2 separate regions of the Homo sapiens genome follow, and region 2 is linked to region 1. The links come from fine-mapping of genetic effects on gene expression. A gene starts in region 1. The other region holds a variant in brackets. All regions are shown on one strand. Distances are between the middles of the regions. Region 1 holds the start of PNRC2 (proline rich nuclear receptor coactivator 2). Region 2 holds the start of LOC105378615 (a long non-coding RNA gene).

The links. PIP is the estimated chance that this variant, and not a neighbour inherited with it, causes the effect. A credible set is the group of variants that fine-mapping cannot tell apart.
Region 2: its variant is the best candidate, but not a certain one, in a credible set for the expression of PNRC2 in whole blood (INTERVAL, PIP 0.81).

The regions. Positions count from the first base shown.
Region 1 is chr1:23,957,361-23,961,751 of GRCh38, reverse strand. PNRC2 (proline rich nuclear receptor coactivator 2) reads right to left here and starts at 1,924. Exons shown (of 3, transcript NM_017761.4): 1 at 1,754-1,924; 2 at 618-823; 3 at 1-312. The coding sequence starts at 294. LOC124903877 (a long non-coding RNA gene) reads left to right here and starts at 3,638. Exons shown (of 4, transcript XR_007065541.1): 1 at 3,638-3,650. RefSeq lists enhancers at 1,658-1,927, 2,828-2,887, 3,066-3,694 and silencers at 2,128-2,237, 2,648-2,747.
Region 2 is chr1:23,983,506-23,987,896 of GRCh38, reverse strand. LOC105378615 (a long non-coding RNA gene) reads left to right here and starts at 109. Exons shown (of 2, transcript XR_947070.1): 1 at 109-153; 2 at 365-489. The variant G/A (reference allele first, on the strand shown) is at 2,408.

The DNA.
Region 1 (4,391 bases):
AAATTTGGCACCAGCATAGTTCTGATTAGCTTGAGATTTAAAAAGTAACCTGGGACCTGATAAGCTAGAATTCCAACTTTGATTATTTGGAAAATTTTTGTTCTTCCCCCCATTTTGCATGGCCTGCCAGGCAGCTGCTGATGAGTTATAACCATGTCCTCTTTCTTTTTTCTTATGAACAATCTTCATCTGGGAATTCTGTTCCTTGGTCTTCTGTCTGTTAAGCTGTTGTTGGTTCTTACTAACATTTCTAGATTGAGGGGCTGGAATGTTATACCTCTCTCCACCACCCATCTTCAGCTTCTTTGTCACCTACAAGTGAATGGAAACAAATATTGAGTAAAATTCCATTAAGAAAAGTTCAAAATCTTTAAGAAGCTTCTATGGCTCCAACTTATAACTCCAGATATTTTGGACAAGACTCAATAACAGGCTATTCAGCTGCTTTAAACTCAAAAAAGCAAGCCGTTCAGACTTCAATATATGCACAACCTTTATTGTTATACCTTCCCTAAGAAAAATGAGCTTACCCACAAATCTACATAATCTATTTTAAAATAAAAACAATTGGTTTAGGATGGTTCCATCATAAAATGTTTGCCCATTATGATGATTACCTTTCAGTCTGCTTTTCAGATTGCAGGATCTCCACTACCTGTCCTCTTCCTTGCTGCCAAGCCCAAGATAACAAGTGTTGCTTTCTGACAGATCCCTTCCTTTGTCTCAATACAGAAGTTTTCATGGGCCGATCTGCTGAGTTCAGCCTAGGAGCTGAGGCCAACATCTGAGTCTCCTCAGCACACAAGTTTGAGAGAAGTCCTAGCTAGAAAAGTAAAGATTACTTCATTATTTCAAAAACACGTTGAGAAAGTGATCATTTAGATTTACTACGAAAATCGTTGACTGTAAAGAAGGCTACTTCCTGAACTAAAAGGTAGAAAATTTCTCGTAAGATGGCTTTCTTTGACCTTATAACCACGACCATTTAAAAAAACTCTTCACCCTTGAGATCCAGTCACTCCTGGGGAATTTTTGTAAGTGTCTCCAAGTCCCGCAATAAGTTTTATCTTTATCTTTTTCCTGGGAAAGACCTTCAGATTCTCTCGCGTATAAAATCAAGGAAGTGTTAAATGTTGAGTCATATCAAAAAATTGGCTTCAGGCGGATTTTCTAAAGAGACCGTGTTTTTAAACTCCCACCAGAATTTTCCAATCTTTCCACACATGTCACATCCATTTTCAGTCTCTTGGAACATGTAGACATCACGCAGTGTTTCCTTTGGTTATGAACGCTCTCGCCTCCTCCCCGTCTTAAAATAAGTTCTCACAAGCCCTAACAGTCTAAGCCCATCTTAAATATATAAAAATGTCTCCCTAGAGGGAACAGCTTAACTTTCAAGGTTTGGTTTTAATTTGATGTTCCAAGAAAATAAGTTACCAAATAGTTAAGCCCCCTCCTTTCAAAGGGGTAAGAGAGCTTTCCAAACAGATAAACAACCCTAAATAAATTGCCATTTCCGGACTGTGAGTAATTCCCAACTCGAACCCGGAAAACGCCTCCTCCGACGCCACAAGGGCTTGGCTTCCCAGTGGCCCCATCTCTCCGGAGCCGCAGGGGTCGCGGCGCTGCGACCGCCCGTGACCGCCCGCGCCCGCCCGGGTTACCCGGATCTCGCCTCCGCTCGCCTCCTTCCTCCAACAATGGGGAGCGCGGCCACCAACATGGCCGCGCCCTTAGCGCAGCCGCTACTTACTGACTTCAAGCTCGGAACTAACGCGGCAGCGGCTCCCTCTCGACGTCGAAGCCTCCCTCCCTTTCCAGGGAGAGACGAGGCACGGACCGACAAAGCCCACGAACACCGATGAGCGAGCTGCCGGCCACCCCAGCTTCTACAACCCGACCTTCTCCTTCTGCCTCTACCGACAAAATGGAGTCGGCAGCGACTGCAGAAGCAGGGCCGGGAGGCTCCGCGGCCAATCAAAACACGACAGCGCGGGCCTGGCCAATGAGAAGCGGGCCGCCGCCTGTTGCTGGGGCTGGCCGGGGGCGAAGGCGCGGAGGTGGGGCTGCAGAGGGTTTGAAATCTGCCCGGGGAGGAGGAGCATGCCGGGAGTAACTGCTCGGTCCACCGGTGTCTTAGTCCTTTCTCCGGCGGCCTCTCCGCGCCCCTGGCCCGCCGAGGCCCCGGCCGCTAGCTCTCGGCTCTTCCTACCGCTCGGCTCTCGTGCGCGCGGGCTCGCCGCCCTTGGGACTGCCCTGGGGGAAAAGACTGACCGGCGGGGGACGTTTGGTTCTCGAATTAGGGCCACTGAGTCCTGTAGCCTGTATTGACAGATGGAAGATACTCCGGAAAGCCTCTTGCCAGGGCGCAGCCCCCTCCCGCCTCGGGCCTCGGCTTCTGGGTCGCCTCTCTCCCACACCCACAACTCCGCGTCCGAAGCCGGCGCCTCCCCGCGGTTCCCTCCAGTGCCCCCACCCTCCAGCCCCGCAATTACTCAAAAGTTGCCTCCCTGTGAAGGCGGTTCAGACACACGCGGGCAAGTCAGTCACTTCCTGCTTGGTGGCCCCATTGGTCCTTAAGTTCAATTAGAGCCCTTTACGCGCCGTGTTACCGTTTCCTGTGGCTGCAGCTCTCCCCACCCACACACCCTCGAGGGCCACAACCGGTTAGGTTTTGTTTCTCTGAGCACAGCGCCTTCGCGCGTTGTAAGTGCACAGTAAGTTTGCTGAAAGAATGAGGACTGCTCTCCTCCCCTTTCTGCCCCACTTGTAAGTGAAAAAGGGGAAGAAAGAGAATATTGTTCAGTTGATTATGCCAGCCAGATGCAGGTAAGGGGAAAATGGCAATTTCTTTGGAGTAAATGTATAAGTAACCCAATGTGAATCTTTTAAAAGAGCACTAATTTCAATGAGCGTGAATAATTCTGGGCCAAACGGTACAAAATCAGTCTCATTCACAGTTTGTTCGTGTATACACATATATACCCAAGTTTACGTTACAGAATTTATATTTACCAACTTTTTATAAATCTCATGTAATTCGTTATTTTTGAGACGGAGTCTCCTTCTGTCGCCCAGGCTGGAGTGCAGTGGCACAATCTCGGCTCACTGCAACCTCCGCCTCCTGGGCTCAAGCGATTCTCCTGCCTCAGCCTCCTGAGTAGTTGGGATTACAGGCGCCTGCCACCACACCCTCCTAATTTTTGTATTTTTAGTAGAGACAGGATTTCATCATGTTGGCCAGGCTGGTCTCAAACTCCTAACCTCACGTGATCCGCCCGTCTCAGCCACTCAAAGTGCTGGGATTACAGGCGTGAGCCACCACACCCGGCCTGTATTTCGTTTTTTAATCTTCAATTTTTTGCCACCGTTATCCCCCACTTCCCAATCCAACCCAAATTCCTATATTCTAGCCATTGGATCTTAAGAAAAGTTACTGCATCTTACGGGATGCAGTTTGTTAATCTAATTTGATAAAAGAGGTATTTTTGAGCATAGGGACTTTCTGATGCTAATCATATTCAAATAAGAAGTATGTGGTAAACCAACAGGTGTCTTAGTGAAAGTGTAATCTGTTTTCCAAACATTCAAGAAGTTTGCTTAGACGTCTAGCCAGATAATAGCCAGCTGTATTTAATGAATTTTTAATGGTGTCACTTTAAAAAACAAAAAACAAACAAAAAAACACTTCCGTGGCTCCAAATTGTGATACGGAATAAAATCTAAACTCTAAACGTTTAGAAAATTATTCAAAGCCATTGCAGTCTAGAGTTAGTCTTTTCATGGCAGGGCATGGCTCACACCTGTAATCTCAGCAATTTGGGAGGCCGAGGCAGGAGGATCACTTGAGCGCGGGAGTTTGAGACCAGCCTGGGCAACATGGCAAAACCCCATCTCTACAAATAACAATTAGCTGGGCATGGTGGCACACGCCTGTAGTCCCAGCTACCTGAGAGACTAAGGTGGGAGAATCACCCGAGCCCAGGAAGTAGAGGCTGCAGTGAGCTGCGATCACAACACTGCACTCCTGGGTGAGAGTAAGACACTGTCTCAAAAAAAAAAAAAAAAAATTCATCTCTTCAGCCACTCTGAATTTTATCTGCATAAACGCACACATAACATTGGAAATGTATAAACCCACACAGAGTATCCTTACTCTGCCCCCTACCCTGTGCTAAATTTTTTTTTCTTACATCATTTCATTTAATCCTCACAATAATGTTGTGAGGTAGGAGCTGTTTTCATCCGCACTGTACAGATGAAGGCTCAGACGGTTTCGAGTTGAAAGCCAGGTACTAGGATTCAAGAGGCCAGGCTGCAGGTTGCCTGCAGCATCTGTGCTCTCCAGCACCTAAAAGGTTTTTTGCTCAGAGCAGACACTGACTGTTGAC
Region 2 (4,391 bases), 26 kb before region 1:
ATCGCTATAATTCTATAATCTTTATAATCAGCTCATTATAATCTCATGGGAGCCCCATTGTATATAGGTGGGGTCCCCAAACCCCAGGCCACAGACCAGTACCAGTCTGCGGCCTGTTAGGAAGTAGGCCACACCACCAGAGGTGATCAGCGGGTGAGCAAGCGAAGCTTCATCTGTATTTACAGCCACCCCCCATCACTTGCATTACCACCTGAGCTCCACCTCCTGTCAGATTGGTGGCAGCATTAGATTCTCATAGGAGCACGAACCCTACTGTGAACTGCGCACGCGAGGGATCTAGGTTGCACGCTCCTTATGAGAATCTAATGCCTGATGATCTGTCACTGTCTCCTATTACCCCCAGATAGGACCGCCTAGTTGCAAGAAAACAAGCTCAGAGCTCCCACCGATTCTACACTATGATGAGCTATATAATTATTTCATTATATAATACAGCTTAATAATAATATAAATAAAGCGCACAATATATGTAATGTACTTGAATCATCCTGAAACCATCCCCCATCCTTGATCCATGGAAAAACTGTCTTCCATGAAACTGGTCCCTGGTAGGGAGGTGGCGGGTCAGCCCCCGCCTGGCCAGCCGCCCCGTCCGGGAGGCAGGTGGGGGTTCAGCCCCCGCCCGGCCAGCCGCCCCTTCCGGGAGGGAGGTGGGGGTTCAGCCCCCACCCGGCCAGCCGCCCCGTCCGGGAGGGAGGTGGGGGTCAGCCCCCACCCGGCCAGCCGCCCCGTCCGAGAGGGAGGTGGGGGGCGCCTCTGCCCGGCCGCCCCTTCTGGGAAGTGAGGAGCCCCTCTGCCCGGCCACCACCCCGTCTGGGAGGTGTACCCAACAGCTCATTGAGAACGGGCCATGATGACGATGGCGGTTTTGTGGAATAGAAAAGGGGGAAAGGTGGGGAAAAGATAGAGAAATCAGATTGTTACTGTGTCTGTGTAGAAAGAAGTAGACATGGGAGACTTCATTTTGTTCTGTACTGGGAGGGGTTCTTCTGCCTTGGGATGCTGTTGATCTGTGACCTTGCCCCCAGCCCTGTGCTCTCTGGGGCATGTGCGGTGTCCACTCAGGGTTAAATGGATTAAGGGCGGTGCAAGATGTGCTTTGTTAAATAGATGCTTGAAGGCAGCATGCTCGTTAAGAGTCATCATCACTCCCTAATCTCAAGTACCCAGGGACACAAACACTGTGGAAGGCCGCAGGGTCCTCTGCCTAGGAAAACCAGAGATCTTTGTTCACTTGTTTATCTGCTGACCTTCCCTCCACTATTGTCCTATGACCCTGCCAAATCCCCCTCTGTGAGAAACACCCAAGAATGATCAATAAAAAAAAAAAAAGAAAAGAAATAGCTAAACAAGCCAATAAAATATAAAGCTAGGATAACTAATCCATTTGAATAAGACAGCATAGAGCATCCAGAAATGACCCAAATACATAAAGTGGCATTTCAAATCAATGGAGAAGGGAGGGTGTCATAGTTCGCGCCTGTCATCCCAACACTTTGAGGCAAAGGTGGGAAAATTGCTTGAGGTCAGGAGTTTGAAACCCGTCTCTACAAAAATTTAAAAAATTAGCTAGGCATGATGGCACATGCCTGCAGTCCTACCTGTTAATACTTGGGAGGCTGAGGTAGGAGAATTACTTGAGCCCAGGAGCTTGAGGGTGTAGTGCACTATGATCGCACCACTGCACTCCAGCCTGGGTGATGGAGTGAGATCCTGACTCTAAAAAATAAAAAGGGGCAATGGTAGGTTATCCAGAATTGTATTGTAGTATAGGGTAGCCCACTGGAAAAAATAAATTCAAATCCCTATCTCACAAGTTTCATTGAAAGAGATTTCACACAAGCAAAGATTTAAATGTAATAAATAAATGAACCTATAAAACTATTACAAAACAAACAAACAAACAAAAAAAAGAAACTGGTCCCTGGTGCCAAAAAGGTTGGAGACTACTGGTATACAGGGCCAATTATTGACCAAAACCTTGTTATGAAGCCCATGATTGTATTTATTCAGTTCTTTCCCATGCCCTTTGTTACATGATACCAATTGTTACATGTTAGCCTAGATAACCAGGCTACAAAGAACAGTAAGCCTTGAGAATTCTATAAAGTCTTAAGGTAAAGGTTCTTACCTTTTCTCAGCCCCTACACGCACTCCTTGGTAAATCAGAGCTCCCTGATCTACTTTTCCAGGGAGATGTCATGTAGCATTTAAGAGTCAGACTCTAGGTCGGGCGTGGTGGCTCACACCTGTAATCCTAGCACTTTGGGAGGCCAAGGTGGGCAGATCGCTTCAAGTCAGGAGTTCGAGACCAGCCGGGCCAACATGGTGAAACTTCGTCTCTATTTAAAGTACAAAAATTAGCTGGGCATGGTGGCAGGCGCCT[G/A]TAATCCCAGCTACTCAAGAGGCTGAGGGAGGAGAATCCAGGAGGCGGAGTTTGCAGGGAACTGAGATCACGCCACTGCACTCCAGTCTGGGTGACAAGAGCAAAACTCCTTCTCAAAATAATAATAATAATCGAAGTTTTAATAGCAATTAGTTCTGAGTGGTAGGATAACAGGTGATTTTTGTTTCCTTTATATTTTTCATCTCCAAAGTTTTAACATGTATAACTAGGAAAAGTGTTATTTTAAGGCATTAAGCCAGAAGTAGTGTCTCACACCTGTAATCTCAACACTTTGGGAGGCCTCGGTGGGAGGACAGCTTGAGCCCAGGAGTTCAAGATGGGCCTGGGTAATGTAGTGAGACTCCATCTCTACAAAAAATTAGAAAAAAAAAATTAGTGGGGCGTGGTGGCTTGCGTCTCAGTCTCAGCTACTTGGGAGGCTGAGGTGGGATGATCTCTTGAGCCTGGGAGGTCAAGGCTGCAATAAGTCATGACTCTGCCACTGCATTCCAGGCTGGGCAACAGAGCGAGACCCTGTCTCAAAAAAATAAAAATTAAAAAAATAATGTGGTGAAAAAATATGTCCATTAGCCATGAATTCTCCCACAGAGCAAAATTAGTCAGAGCAGGGGTTGAAAGGTGAGCCTGCACATAGATATTAATAAATTGATAAATGTGTACATATGTATGTGCCCAAAAGTTTCCAACTCACAAGTAAAGGAATGTTTAAATGAGAACACTGAGTTCTCGCAGTCTGAAGAACTTGGCTTGCTGCCCACTCACTAGAGTGAGGCAGCTTATAGGAAATACCAGGCATGTCTTATCAAACAAATTAAATGAACATGCTTCTAATTGATTGTTTGCTCATGGAGACAGAGACACAACACCAAGCACTGTCTGTGGCAGTTGTCTGAATTAAGCAATTGTACCAATAAAATTAATGTTGTATTGACTCAAGGCTTTGGTTCTGCCTATGGAGTCAGGCTCAGAATTCCACTGACTTAACACACAGTATTTGTCCCTGTGAGTCTCCTTCCAGCAAGCAGAATGGCTCAATGAGTGTGCCATTACCCACAAATCAAGGAAGAACTATTTCAGGATCAAGGAAATTCAGTTATATTGTTTACATTTGGGTTTTATTTGTGCAGTTCTGAGAACAGTACCAAGGAAAGTGGTTTTCTAACATAAATCTCAATAAAACATAGTGTCTTCAAGAAGAGGTGCAGCACCCAACAGATCATTTTCAGAAATTAACATTTGGAGGCCAAGTGCAGGGGCTCACACCTGTAATCCCAGCAATTTGGGAGGCTGACGCAGGATGATTGCTTGAGCCCAGGAGTTCGAGACCAGCCTGAGCAATATAGTAAAACTCGTCTCTACAAAAACCTTACAGAATTAGCCAAGCATGGTGGCACGAACCTGTAGTCCCAGCTACTAGGGAGGCTGAGGTGGGAGGATCATTTGAGCCTGGGAGGTGGAGGTTGCAGTGAGCTGTGATCGCACCACTATACTCCAGACAGAGCAAGACTGTCTCAAAAAAAAAAAAAAAAAAAAACAAGGAAAGAAAGAAAAGAAGAAAGAGGCCGGGCACGGTGGCTCATGCTTGTAATGCCAGCACTTCGGGAGGCTGAGACGTGTGGATCATGAGGTCAGGAGTTTGAGACCAGCCTGGCCAACATGGTGAAACCCCATCTCTACTAAAAATACAAAAACTTAGCCAGGTGAGGTGGCGGGCATCTGTAATCCCAGCTACTTGGGAGGCTGAGGCAGAAGAATCGCTTGAACCCGGGAGGCAGAGGTTGCAGTGAGCCGAGATCCTACCACTGCACTCCAGCCTGGGCGACAGAGCAAGACTCCATCTCTAAAAAAAGGGAAAGAAGGAAAATAAAGAAAGAGAGAGAGAGAACTTATCATTTGGGTCTTCAGAAAAATTACCGGCCCTGGTGTTATACTCAGAATTAAATACAGTGCTCTTAGCACACTG